3 linked regions of the Homo sapiens genome follow. The protein of the gene in region 1 interacts with the protein of each later gene in a biochemical or structural test. Each region holds a gene or a part of one and is shown on either strand. Other genes may lie near its edges. The genes, in order: TRIP12, OTUD5 and SOX6.

Region 1 (7,116 bases):
TAATATCCTGCTTTATTTTAAGGTTTTCATCTTAGCAAGGAAAACATCACTGGCTTGGAAATTCACACACTACCAGTTAGTAGCTTTGTGACCTTGAGCTAGTCACTTAACCTATCTGGTCTTCATTTATTTTATCTGTAAAATGGGAGTGGGTAATCTCTATTTTACCTCACTGGGTGGTTGTGAGACCCAACAGATGTAATGACTGAAAAAAAACAACATGCTAAATAAATTAATTTTAGAAAATTACATGAGCTGTTTTGAGGTCATTTTTAAAAGATACAGCTTCTCATTAGTCGTGGTGGTCCATGGGGCAGGGGAGAATTAATGTAAACTAGGTTGAAGGTACAGAGTTATAGAACTTCATAATTTGAAATTGCTGCTTAATTGGTAGTAGAATTTGGGTCTCATTTTTGTCTTTTTAAAGTTACCTTCTTTTTTTGGTATCAGCATGCCAGATACTTGTTTGCCATACATTCTACTGAAAAAACTTGTTAATATGTTTAAAGAAACTTCAAATTCATTTACGTTTTTTATTGACAAAGTACCTGTTCTGGTTTGTGACTCTAATGAAATTGACTTAATGTAAGAGATTACAATTAGGGAATAATGCTTCTGAATCTTGGTCACTGTTTTCTTTACAGAACCTAGGGAACTTTCCCCCCTTTTAAGTGGATGGGTAGGGATCTTTTTGAGCAAATGTGATACCAGTTGCTCCTTTATTTTTTTGTTTGCTATTTGATGGACTCAAGTCAAAACAGCAACCTACTTGGTTTTTTAATCTTCACTGAAATCATTCCTTGCAATTGCCTGTTTGACATGGACTTTTCCCTCATTTAAATCAAGCAAGCACCCACTATGTACAGAAAAACATAGAAGATAAAGGATGTGAAGAACAACTTACAACTCATGTCTTCAGATCACTTCCTCGAACAAGTTTCTACCTGTGATCTTTGTATTTCTGATTAACTGTACTTGCTTCGTTTCTGCATTACAGTATTGCATTTGTTGACATGTGTTGCTTTTGTTTCCCTGATTGGACTGTAGGCTTCCTGAGGGCAAGGATGATTTCATGTCAATGTGGTATGTGTGAAGGTATACTAATAAACCTGATTGGTCTGGGTGAGGTGGCACTGGAGGTGAGGACGTGGGAGGATCGCTTGAGGCTAGGAGTTGTAGCCCAGGCAACATAGTGAGACTGTCTCCACAAAAAAGAAAAAAAAAGTTAGCTGGGCATGGTGGCATGCATCAGTAGTTCTAGGCAACTTTGGAGGCTGAAGCGGAAGTATTGCTTGAACCCAGAGATTTGAAGTTAATAGTTATGATCATGCCACTGGACTCCAACCTGCTTGGAAGGGTTCTTTGACCCCAGCAGATTCTTCAGAATGCTTTCTCTTGGTTGGTTCAGTGATCAGGGCCTCTTCACATCTCCCCTGACTAACGTGCCATTAGAGTGCCTGGATGGATATCAACTGTCACTGCCATGTTTTAGTGTTAAGCCAGTGGATTATTCTGTGCCACTTTTTTCATAGGCCAAGCTTTAGTTAATAAGGCCAAGCCTGAGGAGAGTCCAGGCCAGATAGGGTGGAAGAGTAAAAATCTGGTGGATGTTACAGAATAAATATAATTTTTAGATTGTTGTATATAATCTTAGTGCTTGGTAATTTTTTTTTTTTTTTTTTTTTTTTTTTTTTTTTTTTTTTGAGACAGAGTCTCGCTCTGTTGCCCAGGGTGGAGTGCAATGGCGCGATCTTGGCTCACTGCAGGCTCCGCCTCCAGGGTTCATGCCATTCTCTTGCCTCAGCCTCCCGAGTAGCTGGGACTACAGGTGCCAGCCACCACGCCCAGCTAATTTTTTTGTATTTTTAGTAGAGATGGGGTTTCACCTTGTTAGCCAGGATGGTCTTGATTTCCTGACCTCGTGATCCACCCGCCTTGGACTCCCAAAGTGCTGGGATTACAGGCGTGAGCCACCGCGCCCGGCCAGTGCTTGGTAATTCTTAACGTGTAGTGTAATGTAAGCTTTACTTGTGTATTTTCTTTTGGTACTTGTGTATCATTTCAGCAGCTGTGTTACAGACTTGAAGACATAACCTCAAAGCAGTTGTTCTCTACCTCTCTGCTGGGTTTCTCTGTGCATAATGGATGCTTGCTGTTATTTGTAATAAATAGATAAGTATACCGATGCTAGACCTGTCCCTTGATTTTTCTTTTTTTTTTTTTAAGTAAAATTTAACTCTGCTAATGTCTTGGGTTTTTTAAAAATGTAGTTCTTTAATATCCTAACTTACTGATAGTTTTAGGTTATTGGCAAAAAGAGGTTTCCTAGACTGAAATAAGTCTGTTCAGTCATTTTTCTCTGAGGCCTTTTAGATTTTGGTTGTTTATTGTGATTTCAGTGATTTCATTAAACTGAATTGGATAGAAGAAAAAGGAACTTACCCATTATTCAGGCTTACCTGCTTTGTCTTGAGAGTGCAGAAGCTATTGGCAGTAGTCAGTTTCATGGTTATGCTTGTTCGTTTGTTGAGACAGAGTCTCACTTTTGTCACCCAGGCTGGAGTGCAGTGGCGCGATCTCGGCTCACTGCAACCTCCACCTTCCAGGTTCAAGTGATTCTCCTGCCTCAGCCTCCCAAATACTGGGATCACAGACGGGCACCTCCACACTTGGCTATCATGGTTATGCTTGATTTAAAAAGTCATTCAAATGGTCTAGAGTGAAAAATACCTGCTACTGTGTGTTTTCCTTAATAGCACTGTTCAAGTGATTATCTGATTTGAAGGCAAGACTTAGGTTCCAATCCTGGCTATGCATTTCCCATCTTTGTAACCTTGGGCAAATAATTTAACTTAGTACTTTGTGAGCTTCAAGTGCCTAATCTGAAAAATTTGATTATTACCACCTAATGTAGAGTCAGTTGTCATTTATATGCTAGACATTCTGTATTTAGATTAGGCTCCACAGATGAATTGGAACACAAGGCCCTTTCTCCACTTGTTTACAGTACTGTGGACCATTGCCTCATTTGTTAAAACTCTTTTAACTCGAACATACCTCTGTTATATGCATAGGTATCCTACTTGAAACATTTGACCCAGTGGCTCATGCCTGTAATTCCAGAACTTTGGGAGGCTGAGGCAGGAGGATCACTTGAGCCCAGGAGTTTGAGACTAGCCTGAGCAACTTAGTAGAGACCTTGTTGCTACTAAAAGTAAAAAATTAGCTGGGCATGGTGGCACATGCCTGTAGTCTTCAGCTACCTGGGAGGCTGAGGTGAGAGGATTGCTTGAGCCTGGGAGATGGAAGCTGTGCTGAGCTGTAATTGTGCCACTGCACTCCAGCCTGGGTGACCGTGAGACCCTGTCTCAAAAAATTTTTTTTTTTTTTTAGTATACAATAGTATTCCTTAGTTGATTATGAATTCTTTAAAGTCTTTAGCCCTCACCCTTTTTTTAACTTTTATAAGGACACTAATCCCAAGTAGTGTCCCTTTTTATCTCTGCATCTAGCACAGTAGCTGGCCCATGATAGGGATTAAGCGTTTGTTGACAGAATAAGTCTTGTGAAAATAAAATAAGATACTGTAAGTGGAAATATTTTGTAATGGCTTAATGTCCTATTTTTAAAATTTTGATTCTTATTTTGCATCGTTAATGCTAAAATGACTTTGAGACTTTTAGTCAGTATATATTTTGGAGACTGCAAGTTACTTTAAATCATACATTTTAAAAAGAATTAGGGCAAGCCATTTTGTTACTCTTTAATTGACCATTATGTGCATGTAATAGTTGATAAAGTACATTGAGGACCTAAATAAGTTTTTTTTTTGAGATTGAGTTTCGCTGTGTTGTCCAGATTGGAGTGCAGTGGCGCAATCTTGGCTCACTTGTAACCTCTGCCTCCCGGGTTCAAGCAATCCTCCTGCCTCAGCCTCCCGAGTAGCCGGGATACAGGTGCCTGCCACCACACCCAGCTAATTTTTTGTATTTTTAGTAGAGACAGGTTTCACTCTGTTGGCCAGGCTGGTCTTGAACTCCTGACCTCACGTGATACACCCGCCTTGGTCTCCCAAAGTGCTGGTATTACAAGAATGAACCACTGTGCCTGGCCAATATGTTTTAATGCAGTGCTAAATGATTAGTGTTTCCAATTTATAATAGTATACATCATTGTAGTTTATTCTGTTTGTTTCTTTTTAGAGAGCATGTACATATTTCTATAAATATGGTGTTATTACCCATACATGGATTTTTGAAGGCTATTTATAAGCCTAAGTGTCCATCAACAAGCCTTCAAGACTTGAAGTTACAGCATTTCAGTGTGTATTTTAATCAACTTGTTGGCTGTCATAACCAATGAGTTCTACCCTGACTTCAAAACTCCTACTCACTCTAGCCGTGGGCAGTGCTCTGAATAAATAGATGTACCTTGTGCTGTGTTCTTAAGGTCAGATGAACTTAATTTAAAGATTTTATACTGGTAAACATGTGCGATGCCCTGGAAACCTAAAGTGAGTTTTCACAGTAGCCCATCTCTTGAAATTCTCTCTTCAGTTGTAATTTAAGCTACTTTGTGTCCTTAGAGAGCAGGTTCATAGAGATCATATGAATGTCCCCTACTTTTTTTGATTCTCAAAAACCAAGTGCTTCTAGTAGCCTTGTAAATAGGAAATATATGCAAATGCTGTCAACTTCTCAGACCCCAGTGTTTCGTAATTCTGTTTTACATCCTTGGCTGCAATCAGATTGAACTGTTTCTTCCTCTCTGAACACACCCAGCAACTTTTTAGCATTTTTGCTTTGGTTTTTTGTCTACTTGAATTGACACCCCCTCTCACATCTTGTATCTATTATTTTTATTATTATTTTTATTTTTTGAGGCAGAGTTTTGCTTTGCCGCCCAGGCTGGAGTGCAGTGGTGCGATCCCGACTCACTGCAGCCTCCACCTCCACCTCCTTGGTTCAAGCGATTCCCTGCCTCAGCCTCCTGAGTAGCTGGGATTGTAGACTGGTCTCCAACTCCTGACCTCAGGCAATCCACCCACCTCGGCTTCCCAAAGTGCTGGGATTACAAGTGTGAGCCACCGCGCCTGGCCTGTATCTCTTAGAAATATATATACTTACACTTAACTTTCTTCCAGTGACTCCTTTAAAATTTTTACTCCTTACTCTCCTATTCTCCTTCTGTAACATATTTCAGGATGACTTTCACGTTCTGTCTTACATAATTAGTTGTTTACATTTTAACTTAACTGGGTTTTTGGCCTCTTCAAGGTAGAGATCTCATTCTTTTATCTTCACAGTGTCTAGCACAAGGCTTCCAACATAATGCATTGTACATGGTAGGTGTACGTGGTAGTGTGTTCTGGTGTGACACATTGAGAAACGATGTTGTGAAATAATATTAGCATCGTTTGCCATAATTTACTTGCTTGTTTTCATTTTTCAGGGGTTGGCAGCTGAGTGTAGAATATAAATTTTTCAAAATTAGGCTCATTAAAATCAGCTACTTAAGGAATTGTTAAGACCCTAGAATATTTTAGTTAGTTGGTTACCCCAAATTTAGCATTTGGAGATGATGTTTATTAGTAGATGATGATTTATTTATCAATACATATTTATCAAGTGCTTACTGTGTGCCACAATTGTGCTTGACAGAATATAAAAGGGACCTGAAACTTATTCCTTGTCTTCCAAGTTCTGTTATGTTTCATATAGTTGATATTTATCTTATTCCATCACAGCTTATTTGTCTAAAACTGTATATAGGAGTATAGTATTTAGCATAGAGAAATATTCTGTAAAATTCTAAATGTAGATTTTCTGCATTTAGAAAATCTGATATTAGAATGTAAATTAAGAAACATGAATTAGGGCATGATTTGTGGCTATACTAAATAAATTGTTGAAGCATCTTCATTTACAAATATTCAGCCAGGTGCTGTGGCTCATGCCTGTAATTCCAACCCCTAGGGAGGCTGAGGCAGGAGGATGATTTGAGCCCAGGAGTTCAGGACCAACCTAGGCAACACAGCAAGACATCATCTCTACTAAAAATAAAAAATTAGCCTGATGTGGTGGTGCATGCCTGTAGCCCCAGCTACTTGGGAGGATTGCTTGAACCCAGGAAGTTGAGGCTGCAGTGCGTCATGCCACTGCACTCCAGTCTAGGCCACAGAGTGAGACTCTGTCTCAAAAAACAAAAACAAATACTCATCAGCAGCTAATGTGAGTGCATATCTGGTTCCATACAAGATCTGCCCTCTTAGAGGGTGCTGAAAAAGAAGAGATTTATAAAAGGAGATTCCTTATCTTGAAATGTACTTTGTTGTAGATGAGTTGAAACTTACGACTACAGCACACAACATCTAACATTGTGCATATTTGTTATTAAGTACAAGATCGAGTTTTATACAGTGGGTACTTGGAAGTTTAGAGAGGTTCAGTTCTGGGTTGAAGTTACTTAGGAAGACTATGAAGAGAGAGGGGCTTAAACTGGCCCTGATTGTTTGGAGGAAGATATAGAAGAATGGGGAGCTTAAAGGTGTAATTGTGGTGAGGATCTAATATTAAGGTAAATGGGCTCTCTGGAGTAGAGGGTCCATATATATGAAATAACAGGAAATTGGGCTGAGATTATTGAAGTTCTTAAATGGGAGATCACGGAATTAGATTTAACAGATTATGTTGAATGATTGTTGATCCCTGAATAGGTGATGTGAAAAAGGTGTACAAAAATATTTATGAATGAACTGAAAACAAAAATAAAAGTGCTTTTAGATGTCATTTTTTATGACAGTGCTTCCCTTTCTGATACTACATATAAAAGTTTTTGTATTAAGTTTTGGAGGAGATAGAAGTAGTGAAGGTAAAACTTCTTGTTTTTTCCTGTTGTTTAAAATGTTAAATAAGCAGAAGCTGGTTTATTGTCTAAATGACCCACACCAGTCCTCTGTTGGACACAGAAGTCTTCCTTTAGTGGAAGCTATCAGTCATTTTGTCTCAGCACATTCAACTGTTGTTTGTTCAGATTTTTTGTAATTCAAAATACTTTTTGATACCTAATGCATGATTTTTTGTGAGTTGTCCTCAGTAATTTGTAAGTCTTATATAG
Region 2 (5,200 bases), on another chromosome or scaffold:
CTCTACAACAAATAGATGCTTGGCCACTGGGTTCCAGACACACTCCGCAGACAGCCACTCAGCTAGCCATGCCCTCAACTGCAGAACCAGACACACATCCTGTCAGAGGGTCTCCATTATCATGGCATGGTGAAAAAGCTGCTTGAGAAAACCTGGGGGCCAGCCAGCCTTCTTTACCTTGGATTTACCCCTAGGGAGGACAGGCAAAGAGGTGTCAGACTGGGGGACAAGAACAAAAAAGGGTTTAGCCGTCCTTCACCTTCTAAAACCTAGTGGGTGAGGCCCCTCTGGTTACTTCCACTAAACTCATGTTGCTACAAAGTATCAGTTGCACTTTTCCAAGGCTTTTCTTCATCAGATCATGATAAGGAAAGAGCAGCATTCATGGTGAGAGGCAGGCGGAGAAGCTGGAATTCAGGCAGGAAGTTCAAGCTCACAGTCCTCTGCTACCATCACCCCCCCCCCCCCAGGAAATAGGGTAGGCAGGGGTGGGGTCAGCAGGCAAAGACGCAGCTTTTCCAGTGGCAATAGGTCCAGAAGGAGGTTTAATAAGCAGCAAATCAAATACAAACTCCAGGCCCCCAGACAGACCCTGCTGGAGAGCATTCACACCTCTGAGGTCAAGCCAAGGTCCGTGCCATTGCATCCTCTGCCCAGAGGCCCGCCCAACCCCTGCCCCACACAGAACAGAGTCGCTCAGGGAAACTGACATTTGGTTTTATTGTGCCAAGGACATTACAGATGGCGGATCTTGTCAACACCTGCAGGGCACGGGTGCCCCATCTGCCAAGGCTGCTCCCACACTCCCTACACTCAAATCCCGGGTGGCAGCCATAATCCCCAAAGATGACCCCCACCCCAAGATTCCAAAGAAGCTAGTGGTGGTGGAAGCAAAAGGAATGCAGCAAGGTCAGGGTTTCATTGTCCAAGCCGGCCTGACACCTGCCGCCCTGCCCTTGCCCAGTGCACACCCTAGACCCTGGGCCGGCCTCCATGCAGCTGGAGGCCAGAAGACAGCAACCCATATCTTTGCACCCTCCTCCATGCCCCATGGCCTGCCTGCCCAGAAAGATGCCACCTTCACAGAGCCAGTGCTGTCGTCTATATCATTTTTGATTAGTTGATTTTATAAGATAAAAGTAATTTTAATAAAGAAAAAATTCAACATTGAAGGCTCAGACGTTCTTGGGGGTACTGGGAAGGGAAATTTCCCACTTCTTCCTCCCACCTCCCTGGCATCAGTGTCGGGGGGTGGCGGCAAGTTTTTCTCATCTTGGAAGGAATGAGGGGCAGGGAGACTTTCCTCTGTCTGAATGTCTCTCTCCTCTGGGGCTGCCTGGCTGCCAGTTGGTCTGTCTCTGTGTGCCTCTTGTCTATCTTCGGCACCCTTGCCCGAGTCCCCTGTGGAATGCAGGGATGGTTCTGTGCGGGATGGGGTGGGGGGCAACAGGGCACATCAGCTGGCAGAGAGACAGGTGATAGTGGCAGCGGCAATGAGAGAGAGTGCAGGGGTGGGCTAGCCAGAGGGAAGTGAGGAGGAGGGAAAAGAGGGGAGAGCAGAAAGAACAGAAGGAGGCAAGAGGGAAGAAGCCAAAGAAGGTGAGGTGGCACCGGAGAGCAGGAGTACTGGGGTTGGGAGATGGTGTCCAATCCCTGGGTCTCCATCAACTCTTGTCTGGGGGCGGGTCTCTGTGCACTTTGTTTTTCTTCATACTGTCTAGGTATTCCTGTTGGGACACTGCCAGCACCGAAGCTAGGATCTCATCATCATCCCAGTCATTCAGACCTGCTGGGCGAGAGGAAGAGGAAAAGGATGATGGAGCGCTCTCAGCCTGCCTTCTCCTCACCCTGTGCCGACATCTGGGGCTCTGGAGAAATCCCATAGGGCCCTTCTCACTCCTTTCTCAAAACAGAAGGATCTGCTAGGCCTGTGAAACCCCACTTAGACCCCAGACCCTTCTGGGGCAAATTCCTTGGATCTGAAAAATCCCCTCCAGTGCCTCTCCCTTCTTTTCTTGGGGAGATGGCCAGAGGCTCCAGAAAGCCCCTCTCAGGACTTGCCACTTCTTCCAGTCTCTCCCAGCTCCTAGCAGCCTCCATCCCCCCAGACAAAGGAGGCTTACCAAAGGCAGAGGGGGACATCTGCTGAATGAGGGCCCGGCACTCCAAAGCAGGGTAGAGGGACACAAGGGGGGAAGTTGCCCGGTCGGCCCCTGCCGAGAACTGACTGCTTGTACCTGAAGCAGACGGACAGTCAAAGGTAGGGACCCAGGATCCAGGACCCAGGACCCAGGACGTGCCTCCTAACTCCCAGCACATTCCCTGTGGGCAAGTCACTGACCTGGCGCACAGGGCGAAGGAGGTTTGGCAAGAGCTAAAACAGTGCCTGGGGAAGGGGGCTTCATGCCCAATTCAGCATGCAGCTCAGGGTGCTCAGGTGACGAGGCTGAACTCCGCTGCCGCGGGGACCGGCTAGTCCACTCCTCCAGGCCACTGGAGGCTGCTGCTGTGGCCGAACTGCATGTGGCGCTGGCTTTCCGGGGCTGCAGCGGGGAAGGTAAATGCGTTAAGGACCACCAGCAGCCATGACCTTCTTGTGACCCATCCCTGAATGCTGGCTCCCTTCCCAGGACCTTGGCTATGATACAGCTTCTATGTAGGTCAACATCATCCCCACTCACACGGTGGACCACAAGACTCCTCACAGGACAGAGGTGGAGCTCCTTACCCTTTCTCTCACACCCCTACAGCCAATCTGACAGGAAACCCTGTTACCTCTATCTTGAAAATAGATCTCAAATCCAACCCCTTCTCACCAACTCCACTGCCAGCACTGGCCACCAGTCACCTGGCCTACTGCAGTAGCCTCCTCCTCACTGGCCCCTGCTTCTGCCCTCACTCACCAGACTCCACTGGATGACTAGCAGGCAAGGCGATCTTATTAAATCCCCAACCACATCCTGTCCGTCCTCTGCTCACAATCCTCCCATGGTTTCTGCCTCTCTGAGAGTAAATGCCAAAGTCCTCGCCACAGCCCACAAGCCCCTACCCAATTGGACCCACAACCTCTCTGACTTCATCTACTACTACATTCTGTTCGGATACACCGGCCTCCCTCTGGGCTGTGCCTGAGTTGTACCAGGTGTGTGGGCCTGCTGTCCTCCCCTCCATGTGCGCTCAGCTAACTCTCACCTTCTGCAAGGCTCAAATCTCACCTGCTCTGAGGCCTACCCTGACTGCGCTATTTCATACCGTGAACGCACATTCCTGCTCAGCCCCTTTATCCTGGCTCTACACTTTCCATCCATAGCACTTCCCAACTAATTTATTCATTATATTTATTATTTTATTTCACTCTGCAAAACTGTGAACATCACAAGGACGGGGATCTTGGTCTGCTGGGCTCACCTATGTATCCCCATATACTGAAAACAGGGCCTGCCACAGACTGGTAGTAGGTATTTGTGGAATAAAACTCAGCTCCTTCAGCCGGGTGCGGTGGCTCACGCCTGTAATCCCAGCACTTTGGGAGGCCGAGGTGGTCGGATCACGAGGTCAGGAGATGGAGACCATCCTGGCTAACACGGTGAAACCCCGTCTCTACTAAAAATACAAAAAATTAGCCAGGCGTGGTGGTGGGCGCCTGTAGTCCTAGTTACTCCGCAGGCTGAGGCAGGAGAATGGCATCAACCTGGGAGGCGGAGCTTGCAGTGAGCCGAGACTGCGCCACTGCACTCCAGCCTGGGCGACAGAGCAAGACTCTGTCTCCAAAAAAAAAAAAAAAAAAAAACTCAGCTCCTGCCAGCCAACATCTACAATCACTCCAAACTCCTTGCGATTTTACAATTCCTCAGATGCTTGTCTGCCCCGCCCCTCCCCGCTCCCCTAACAATTCAACCTTCCTCTGTGAAGACTAACCGGAGCCCCCACCTCCACTGATCTCCCAGTCAGGGTCAAGGACCCCACCATTGAGTTGTCTCTGCCAACAGACGAGATCGTTGAGGGCAGAGTAGTCCAGATCTGATGTTACATTCTCAGTAGAGACCTGGCACACAAGGGCAGTCAACAAAAGCTTGTGTCTCTGAAGCTATCCATTATTCTCGTGTCACCAGCAGCATGGCTGCCCTCCTCTCACTCCTTAAGTGCCTGTTCTGCACAAGTATTTAAAGTTCCAAGGTACAATGCCAAAACTAAGACCAAGATGAGTTACAGATGGTGCTGGATGCTTCCTTCCCTCCCAGATGTCAAAACTGCTTAATTTTTTTCTGCTCGCTTGAGGGCAAAGCATGAGAAGTAATGAGTTTTTGGCCAAGCCTGTGACAGAGTCCATGACCCACCTGGCTGGGGCCTCGGACCTGGCGAGCCTGTTTCTCCTGATCCCGCAACCACTGCAGGTAGGATTCCCGAGCCACCTGCTCCTCGATGGCTTCATTTGTGGCCTCCCAGTCTGTGGCCCGTTTCTTGTCTTCTAGCATCTGCTGTTCAATCCATGACTCCTCCGATGTTTTTATGGCATTCTTCATCAGAGACTGCTCTGCAAACTGCAAGGAGGGAGAGGAACAGGGATGTGCAATAACACACTGAACCTGCCCAAGAGCCAGAACAGGCTCAGCGAGGTAGGCCCACAGGCCCCAGAAAAAAAAGGAGACAGGAAAGCAGGTACTCCCAAAGAGCAACACTCCACAGACTACCTCTTGATTGGGGACCAAGGGAAAGCAGGCTTGGGATGTGGGACCTGTCATTCCAAACTCCTATGCTTGTAAGACCTGACTCTAACCCCCAAACCACCTCAACTGAGGCACTGAGACTGGAGCAGTCAGGTGCCTTCCAACCTGGGACTTATTTTTTTTTTTTTTTCTGAGACGAAGTATCGCTCTGTCGCCCAGGCTGGAGTGCAGTGGGGTAATCTCGGCTCACTGCAACCTCCGCCTCCCAGGTTCAAGGGATTCTCCAGCCTCAGCCTCCCAAGTAGCTGGGATTACAGGTGAGTGCCACCACCCCCGGCTAACTTTTTTGTATTTTTAGTAGAAATGGGGTTTCACCATGTTGGCCAGGCTGGCCTTGAACTCCTGACCTCAGGTGATCCACCCGACTCGGCCTCCCAAAGTGCTGGGATTATAGGTGTGAGCCACTGCACCTGGCCCTGGGCCTTAATTTAAAGAAGCCCCATCCAGTGATGACTGTTTCATAATGTTGAGGA
Region 3 (7,602 bases), on another chromosome or scaffold:
TTTCCACATTTTTTTATACACACCAAACAGTCTGGTTTCACAAATAACTAAAGTGCTGCTATCTTGTATTTCTCCCTCTGTACTTCCACCACCTCCTCCCTTTCTTATAGCTATTTGCTTTAAATTTCTCACTTGCATTTGCTGGAATTATCATAAACAGCTCCAGGAGAACATGAGAATCCAATTGTTTCCATGAATCATTGCACAGAATTGTTTGAGTTATCATTATAAAAGACAAGTATGACTACCTGCTGTCTTGCATACTTAAGGGATTCTTTACCAAGTACATATTTGCACACCTACCAAGGTACAGAATTTCTGGTTTTCCCAAGCTGTGGTGTTAGTTATAGGAAAGAATCCTGCATTATTTATCTGGTCCTGTTCTTTCTTCTCATATAACCACCACCTCCACCTCACGATTTCCCAAAATTGAGTAGTCCCCTGAAAAACTTTTACATTTATCATGCCTAATCTACCAGCTTTTTAGATTTCTTCAAAAGTAATACTTTATTTGCATCCATGGTGCCTAGAACTGGAAAACTGCTTGCTACCAGTCTTACCAGGATCTATTGCCAGAAGGAAAAGTACAGTATAATGGAAAGGTTTAGAGGAAAGACTTAAATCTCATTTACTATGTCTGTGAACTTCAGAAGTTACTTAACTCTCTGAGTCTCTATGTACCCATCTATAAAATTAGGGACAACACATCTTCCTTGAAAAGTTGTTGTGAAGAGATTAATTTGATATATGTGCAAATACCTGGTATTTGGTAGTTATGAAACAAATGCTAACTTTCTTTAAAGAAAACTTGACAGAAAAATGGTTTGACTCAAACAAAAACAAATAAAAATCCTTAAAGAAAAAGATTCTGAATTTTTACACATCACAATAAATAAAAATTCCACGGAATATAAGTTTTCCAGTCCCAATATACTCGTGACCCAGTGCTGAGTGAACTAATGACAAGAACCATGCCAAGAAAATAAAAAGCACAGGGTAAAAATATATTGTTACTGTTTCTCAAAAGGGGTATGGACAGGAGGGAATCACTTTTTACACAGGGAAGACCAAAGCCTACAGCATCTGCTGCTGATAACTGTATTCCTAAGGACAATAGAGTCCTGAGCTGTAGGTGCCTATTCAAACCACCTATTATTAACCTCTTTCCTTGATTTTCAACTAAAACGGTCCAAGTATTTGGAGACTGTAACCCATTTGCTCAGAATTAATTTTTAAACAGAAGCAGCCTTGCAGTATACTAAAATTGCTACCAGAGCTTAAATTAACTTGACAATAAATAAAAAGTCTGAGCTACCCTATCCTATGAAATACATGAATACCTTTCAAAGCCTGATTATTTTCTTGTCCCCTGGCCCAACACTAAATGTTCCAAAATGTTACTTGTTTCACACAATTTTTTTTTATTTCTAAATCAGGTCTAAAATCAAGTTGCTACTAGTGTGCTAAAGAACCCCAGCACATTCTCATGAGCTGATTGAAAGCAGCTTACCTTAAAATTCTCCTCTCACAATTCACTTTAGAAAATCAACTTGAGGAGTCATAGATTTGCTAGACTAACTGTTTGGTATTCTGGTCAATTCATTATCACAAAATAGGTATTATTAACTGTACCACAGCTTAGAACAATGACACACTATTCCATGTGTAGTTTGAGATCACTATTTCCACAATTTGAAGCTGAAAGTTCCATCATCAAGATAAACTTGCCTAAAGACCAAACTCACAAACAATAAGGTATCTAGGAAAGCTGGATAAGGAAAGAAACAAATTAATATTTTGAACTTTGACAGGCATGATGGAAAACAAATTCAAGGTGTGTGTTACTCAGAAAAATTCAAAAGAAATGTATCGCAGAATAAAAAGGAGTAAATTGAAAAGCATTGATAAAGCACTATTTTTAATGCACTTGCCAATCATCAATTTAATTTACTATAGTTTTATATAAATAATACTTTCAATACATAGTTATAGCATTAAATACTATAAATCTCAATGTAATACCAGTCTTGCTTAGTTATAGCAGCTTATGAACATTAATAATTTTAAGTTTTTACTAAAAACACATCAGCAATTACCCAGTGGTCTGCTTGTCAGTTGTGTTTCTTTGAAATGTTTATTATGATTAAATATTTTCATTAGTAAAAACATCTTTTACCATAGTGCATAAAATACCTTATCAGATGCAGCATATATTAGAAACTAGCCGTGTATATTGGAAAGATTGATTTTATTGAAAAGATTCATGTAGGGAATCTATGATTCCTCATAGATAATAGTACTCAGGACCTTAGATTATACAGAAAAAATAATCACATGTTAAAAATCTACGAGATGCTACAAATAAAGGTATGCATATTCAACCCTCAGGAAAACCAAATCTGTTTTTAAATAGTCTGTTGCAATTCCCTAGCAAGATTACAAATGTCATGCAAAAATGCTTTTCAAGTTATTACCTTATTACCATAACATAAGCTTTTCTTAACAAGCCATCATCCCACCCAATCAGGTAGGCTTTGAAGTTAGAAAAATTAAAAGGTAAAGTAATACAGCCAAGACCTGTGACAGCTAAAGGAAGCACAAATCACTCACATGAAGTGGCTGCTCTTCCACTCTTCAATCCGGCTTTCTCTTACCACATCAGCCAGAACTTCAGAACTTGAGGGCATAACACCTTTGACACCTTCCCAAATCACAAGAAACCTCTGACTGCCAACCAAAAAAAAAAAAAACCCAACCCCACAGCTAATTAATCTCTGCCAAGTCTCAGGCTACCAATTGTAGCCATAACTTTAAGCAACATCTAATTTGCTAAACAAAACACTGTTAACTTTGTTCAACAATTAAAGGAGTTAAAAACATAAAAGTAAATGAAAGAAGTGAAATCTCTTGGCCTGTTGGGAGATACAGTACCCCACATACCTTCTGCCACTGCTGCTACAGTTAAGCAAACTTTACAAGCTAGTCAAGCCATCATCCAATAGAGCCTATTTGCTGAGCAACAGTGGAGCTTTGTGGTTTGCCTCACAGTTGACAGTAAGTTATGAGCCCTTTGTGAGCACAGGGGAAGGAAAACAGAGATCGGAATTTGGCAGGAAAATATAATACAGAATTCTCCTGTCTATGGAACCTGAATTTTTGTGAAAACAATCAAGCATTGTTGAAAGAAAGAAAAGCAACTTTGACAGATGAAATATAGAGGGGCCCCTTTTAGGAAAACAGTAAACAAAGCGCCATTCAGGCCAGGTCCATTCTGTCATTTATAAAGATAGTTTCTTCTGTGTGGTGAGAGTTTACAGCAAAGAGTTCAGATTCAACAAATCAAGTGTAAAATCTCCCACAGTCCCCATTAAAAAAGCCTGCTAGGAAAAGACAGGAATGCCAAAGAGAAAAATATCACAAGTTTTTCTGTTTGGTAGAGAGGATACAATAAGTAGATGGGGTGAAAGGGACTCTAAGAGAAGTCTGAAAGACAAGCCAAAAAACTAACAATTGTTAATTATAAAAGGCTAATTTTGTCAGAGACAGGAAAAGAGGAGGACACTGGAGATCACTCAATAGAAATATGAAAGGAAGAAGCCATTCTTCATCATTGTTGGAGAACTATGTCTCTATTTCTCCAGGCTGGACCTCATGAGGTCATCATTGGCACGAAAGGCTCAAAAACTTGGGCTTGGTACTACTATAGTTTGGCCATCTGGAATGTCAGCACACAGTGCACTACTTTCTCCAAAGTATCTTAATTCCTCTTTCCAAAAATAGGCACCCTGGCCAGCTTTAGTCACCCAGACTGGAAAATGTACAGCACAGAATGAAATGAAAAGCATTTTTGTTTTCTCACCCTCCTCAACTAGAAATACGATTTCTGTGCGGGAGAATTAAGGAAGAGGGGCCCAGAGCACTGAAGCTCTGATTTACAGAGCCTATTTCTGCTATGCGTACGGTCGGCAATTGTTAGTACTTATAACCAACTGAGTTTTGGGCATCCATGGAATTCTTAAAGACGTATGTCTTTTCAGCCAACACAGTCATTGTTAATGCTTTAAAGAATAAAAAAGAGGGACCACAAGCCAATAAAGTCACAATTAGAATCAAATGACACATTGCTTGCACATCATTTGGAAAACATGTATAAAACTACTTGGTTTTTGCTACACCCAGCTAAAGTGACAGCCTTCGCTGTGTGTTAATCTGGAATCAAACCAAGCCACACCTAAACAAATAATGCTTAGTAGATGCAAAATAATACGGATTCTTTTATTTAGACTACCCAAACAATTTATTTCACCAACGAAATCCCATAATAACTAGCTACATTTTAAACATTCCTTTTAAAACAAAGCCCACAAAATGCTGAAGTGTGCCCATAGGTCAAGAATAATAAAAGCAAGCATGCATATGGATTCAATGCTGCAGATTTATTCAGCATTGGTTAATGGTTTCTATAGAGATTGATGTCAATCTCTCTGGCCTTTCTTGTGTCAACAGTAAGTTACAACAAGAAAGATCGTGGCTTTTGCCTTTGATTAGAAGAGGTATCTTTCTCTAGTTGACTGAAGGTCACAGCATTTGCAACATGTGCTCACTTATTACAGCTCCCATGCAGAATGTATACATAAAAAGCTGATTTACTCCCCAAAAAGGGCCAGAGCCATAGTGAACAAAAGATGACTCTGACCACATTAGATGGTTTTCTTTTCAAATAAATTCAGTCCTGATAAACCATTAAACATCAGCACATTACTAATAAAACTATAACTAGGAGACATCCTTCCACTCTGCCATTCTCCTGCCATCAACGACTTTCAAAATTATAGAATGCCAGGACAAATCATTACATTGTTTTACCTTAAAAATATATTTTACAAGAAAATTCTCAATTTTATTATGAAAGAACAAATAGTTCTACCAACAGGAAAGTGTTACAGCAAACAAACAGGGTAACTAAGGGGAAACCCAGTTGGTTTGAACATCTAGCAGCTGAACAGAACACAACATGACTAAAATATACATATATGCACATCGATTCATGTGGCAGAGCATCAACTTATGCCCCAATTACTGGTCTAGAAAGAACACCTAAATAAGAAGTGTTTGGAGAAATTATCTGGAAGACAGGCCATAAGAGGGAAAGAAATTAGCAGGATTTTTCTCAATAAGCTTCCTTTCAAGTAGTAGATATTTTGCCACAGTGTTCTGAAGGAAACAGAATCATGGTTTGACCTGAAAGAGAAAGAAAAGAAAATCCCTTTTCTCTGGCCTCAATTCTTTATCTGTAAAATGAGGTATGTTTCTAACACTGAAATTTTATTAGCCTATGACTCTAAGGCAATCCTAATAGGAGAAATACTAAAATTGGCTTGTGAACCAGAGAAGTTGCCAGTTCTGTGTCTACTACCTCTTTTATTTAGCCTACAAATATTTACTGACTACCTGCACTGTGTCAAGTACCATACTGACTGCCAGACAGACATACAGAGGCATATAAATAAGACAGCAACTTCCCATAGTCCACAGTCTAGCAAGAAATATAAATGGAAAATAAACCATTGAAAAGTGATAGGATAAGAAACCAGGTACTAGAGAGATATATTGTAGGAGCCCAGAAGAAGGAACAAATACCTCATTTTGGAGGGATCAGAGACATTACAGAAGACTCACTTAACCGGGTCCTCAGAACGAGAAGTTTGTCTGGTGGAACTAAAAAAAAAAAGGACATTCCAAGATGTGCAAGGGCTGAGACTTATAAAAGAATATGGTTACATTCCAAGAAGAGGAAGAACTTTGAAGTGACTGAACTATGGAGTGCATGGTGGGAAGTAGCAGGAAAAATATCTAGTAGGACAGAATGACAACAGATTGGAAAGGATTTCAAATGCAATTCAAAATAGTTTGGGTTTTATCCTCTGGGAAATAGGAAATCATTGGATTAACATAGGGAGTAGTAGGTCTGAATTTCCCTTATGAAAAAAAAATCTCCAGTGGCCTTAGGAAGGATGACTCATCCAAAAGGTTGTATATATGTTTATGCTCCTGTCATTTGTATTTATCTGTGCCTACCTGTCCTTTTCTTATCTTGTCCTTGGTGTTCTGCTCGACATGTGATACTGACCAGTTCCTCTCTACCTCTACGTTCTTTCAAGTCTCCATTTTAAGTCTCTACAAATGCCACTGATAAATGTTGTTGAAAGAAGGTAGATGAAGCGAGTAGGGAACGAAGAGGAGGAAATAATATGAATAATCACAAAGGAAATATCAAAGAAGAAGAGAGAAGTTATACTAATAAAAATAACAACCTAATGGCTAATGGTACTGAGTGCATACTATGCGACAAGCTCATTACTTTATGCTTCACAGTACCTCATTAAATCTCAAAACAACCCCACAACAAAGCTACCAATTTATCCCCATTTGCAGATGAGCTAAGTGAGGCTTAGAAGTGGTTAAGTAATTTGACTATGGTTACAAAGTAAATGAGAGAGAAGAGATTCAAGTGAGTCCTGTCTGACTCCAAATCCCATGCTTTTAACTTTTACACTATACTTCTAATGATATCAGTTACTGAATGTTAACCATGTGTCAAAAACTATCCTAGCTGCTTTGCACAGGCTATGTCTAAGACCTACAATAATCTTAAAAAGTAAATATCATTGTCCCCCATTTCACAGAAGAGAAGGGAGACTGAGTAGCTGATCTAAAGTTGTACAACTAGTAAGAGGCATCACCAGAGTTTGGGTGGTGATGCCTAGTCTGTTTGGATGCACCCTTTCCACTACATTATGATGTGTATATATTCTGATTCTTTCCTTCCCTACAGAACTCTTCCCCATCTCTACATTTCCAGACTCTACCTTCAAGGCTCAGCTAATATCTTACTTCTTCCAGAAGCCTGTCCACAAAATATTAGTTCACCATTGCATTCCTATCACGATTACTTGTGTAACATTCATTTAATTGGATCAAAATAGATATGTATTTGTTTCCTCCTATATGTTTATGTTCCATATCCCCAGTCAACTCCATAGTGCCTGTAGCAGGCTCCTCAGGCAAGATGTACTGCCCAAACATATCTTATACTACTCAGCCTCTAGAAGGGGACAAGAATTGTGTCATAATACATTGTATCCCCCAAGATAACTGGCAGAAACCTAAGTATATAGTAGGGCTTAATAAATAATGCGTTGAATGACTCCAATATACTCTAATAGTAAGAAGTTTTTGGCCAGGCACAGTGGCTCACGCCTGTAATCCCAGGACTTTGGGAGGCTGAGGCGGGCAGATCACAAGGTCAGGAGATCGAGACCATCCTGGCTAACATGGTGAAACCCCGTCTCTACTAAAAATACAAAAAGTTGGCCGGGCATGGTGGCAGGCACCTGTAGTCCCAGCTACTCGGGAGGCTGAGGCAGGAGAATGGCGTGAACCCGGGAGGCAGAGCTTGAAGTGAGCCAAAATCACACCACTGCACTCCAGTCTGGGCAAAAGAGCAAGACTCCATCTCAAAAAAAAAAAAGAAGAAGAAGAAGAAGTTTTCAAAAATAATATTAGCAACAGCTAACTCTCCCTGTATGTATGGAGACTTTA

What was found.
Region 2: of the proteins of TRIP12 (region 1) and OTUD5, one has a biochemical effect on the other in vitro, tested with the Homo sapiens proteins (one study listed by BioGRID).
Region 3: of the proteins of TRIP12 (region 1) and SOX6, one has a biochemical effect on the other in vitro, tested with the Homo sapiens proteins (one study listed by BioGRID).

What each region holds. Positions count from the first base shown.
Region 1 is NC_000002.12:229,911,968-229,919,083, reverse strand, and holds part of TRIP12 (E3 ubiquitin-protein ligase TRIP12), read left to right. Parts: intron 1-7,116. UniProt on the Homo sapiens protein: E3 ubiquitin-protein ligase involved in ubiquitin fusion degradation (UFD) pathway and regulation of DNA repair.
Region 2 is NC_000023.11:48,921,510-48,926,709, forward strand, and holds the end of OTUD5 (OTU domain-containing protein 5), read right to left. Parts: intron 4,542-5,200; coding exon 4,338-4,541; intron 2,544-4,337; coding exon 2,342-2,543; intron 2,238-2,341; coding exon 2,124-2,237; intron 1,790-2,123; coding exon of another isoform or gene 1,787-1,789; coding exon 1,665-1,786; 3' UTR 515-1,664; downstream 1-514. UniProt on the Homo sapiens protein: Deubiquitinating enzyme that functions as a negative regulator of the innate immune system. Has peptidase activity towards 'Lys-48'- and 'Lys-63'-linked polyubiquitin chains. Can also cleave 'Lys-11'-linked ubiquitin chains (in vitro).
Region 3 is NC_000011.10:16,353,484-16,361,085, forward strand, and holds the start of SOX6 (transcription factor SOX-6), read right to left. Parts: upstream 3,064-7,602; 5' UTR 2,611-3,063; intron 1-2,610. UniProt on the Homo sapiens protein: Transcription factor that plays a key role in several developmental processes, including neurogenesis, chondrocytes differentiation and cartilage formation.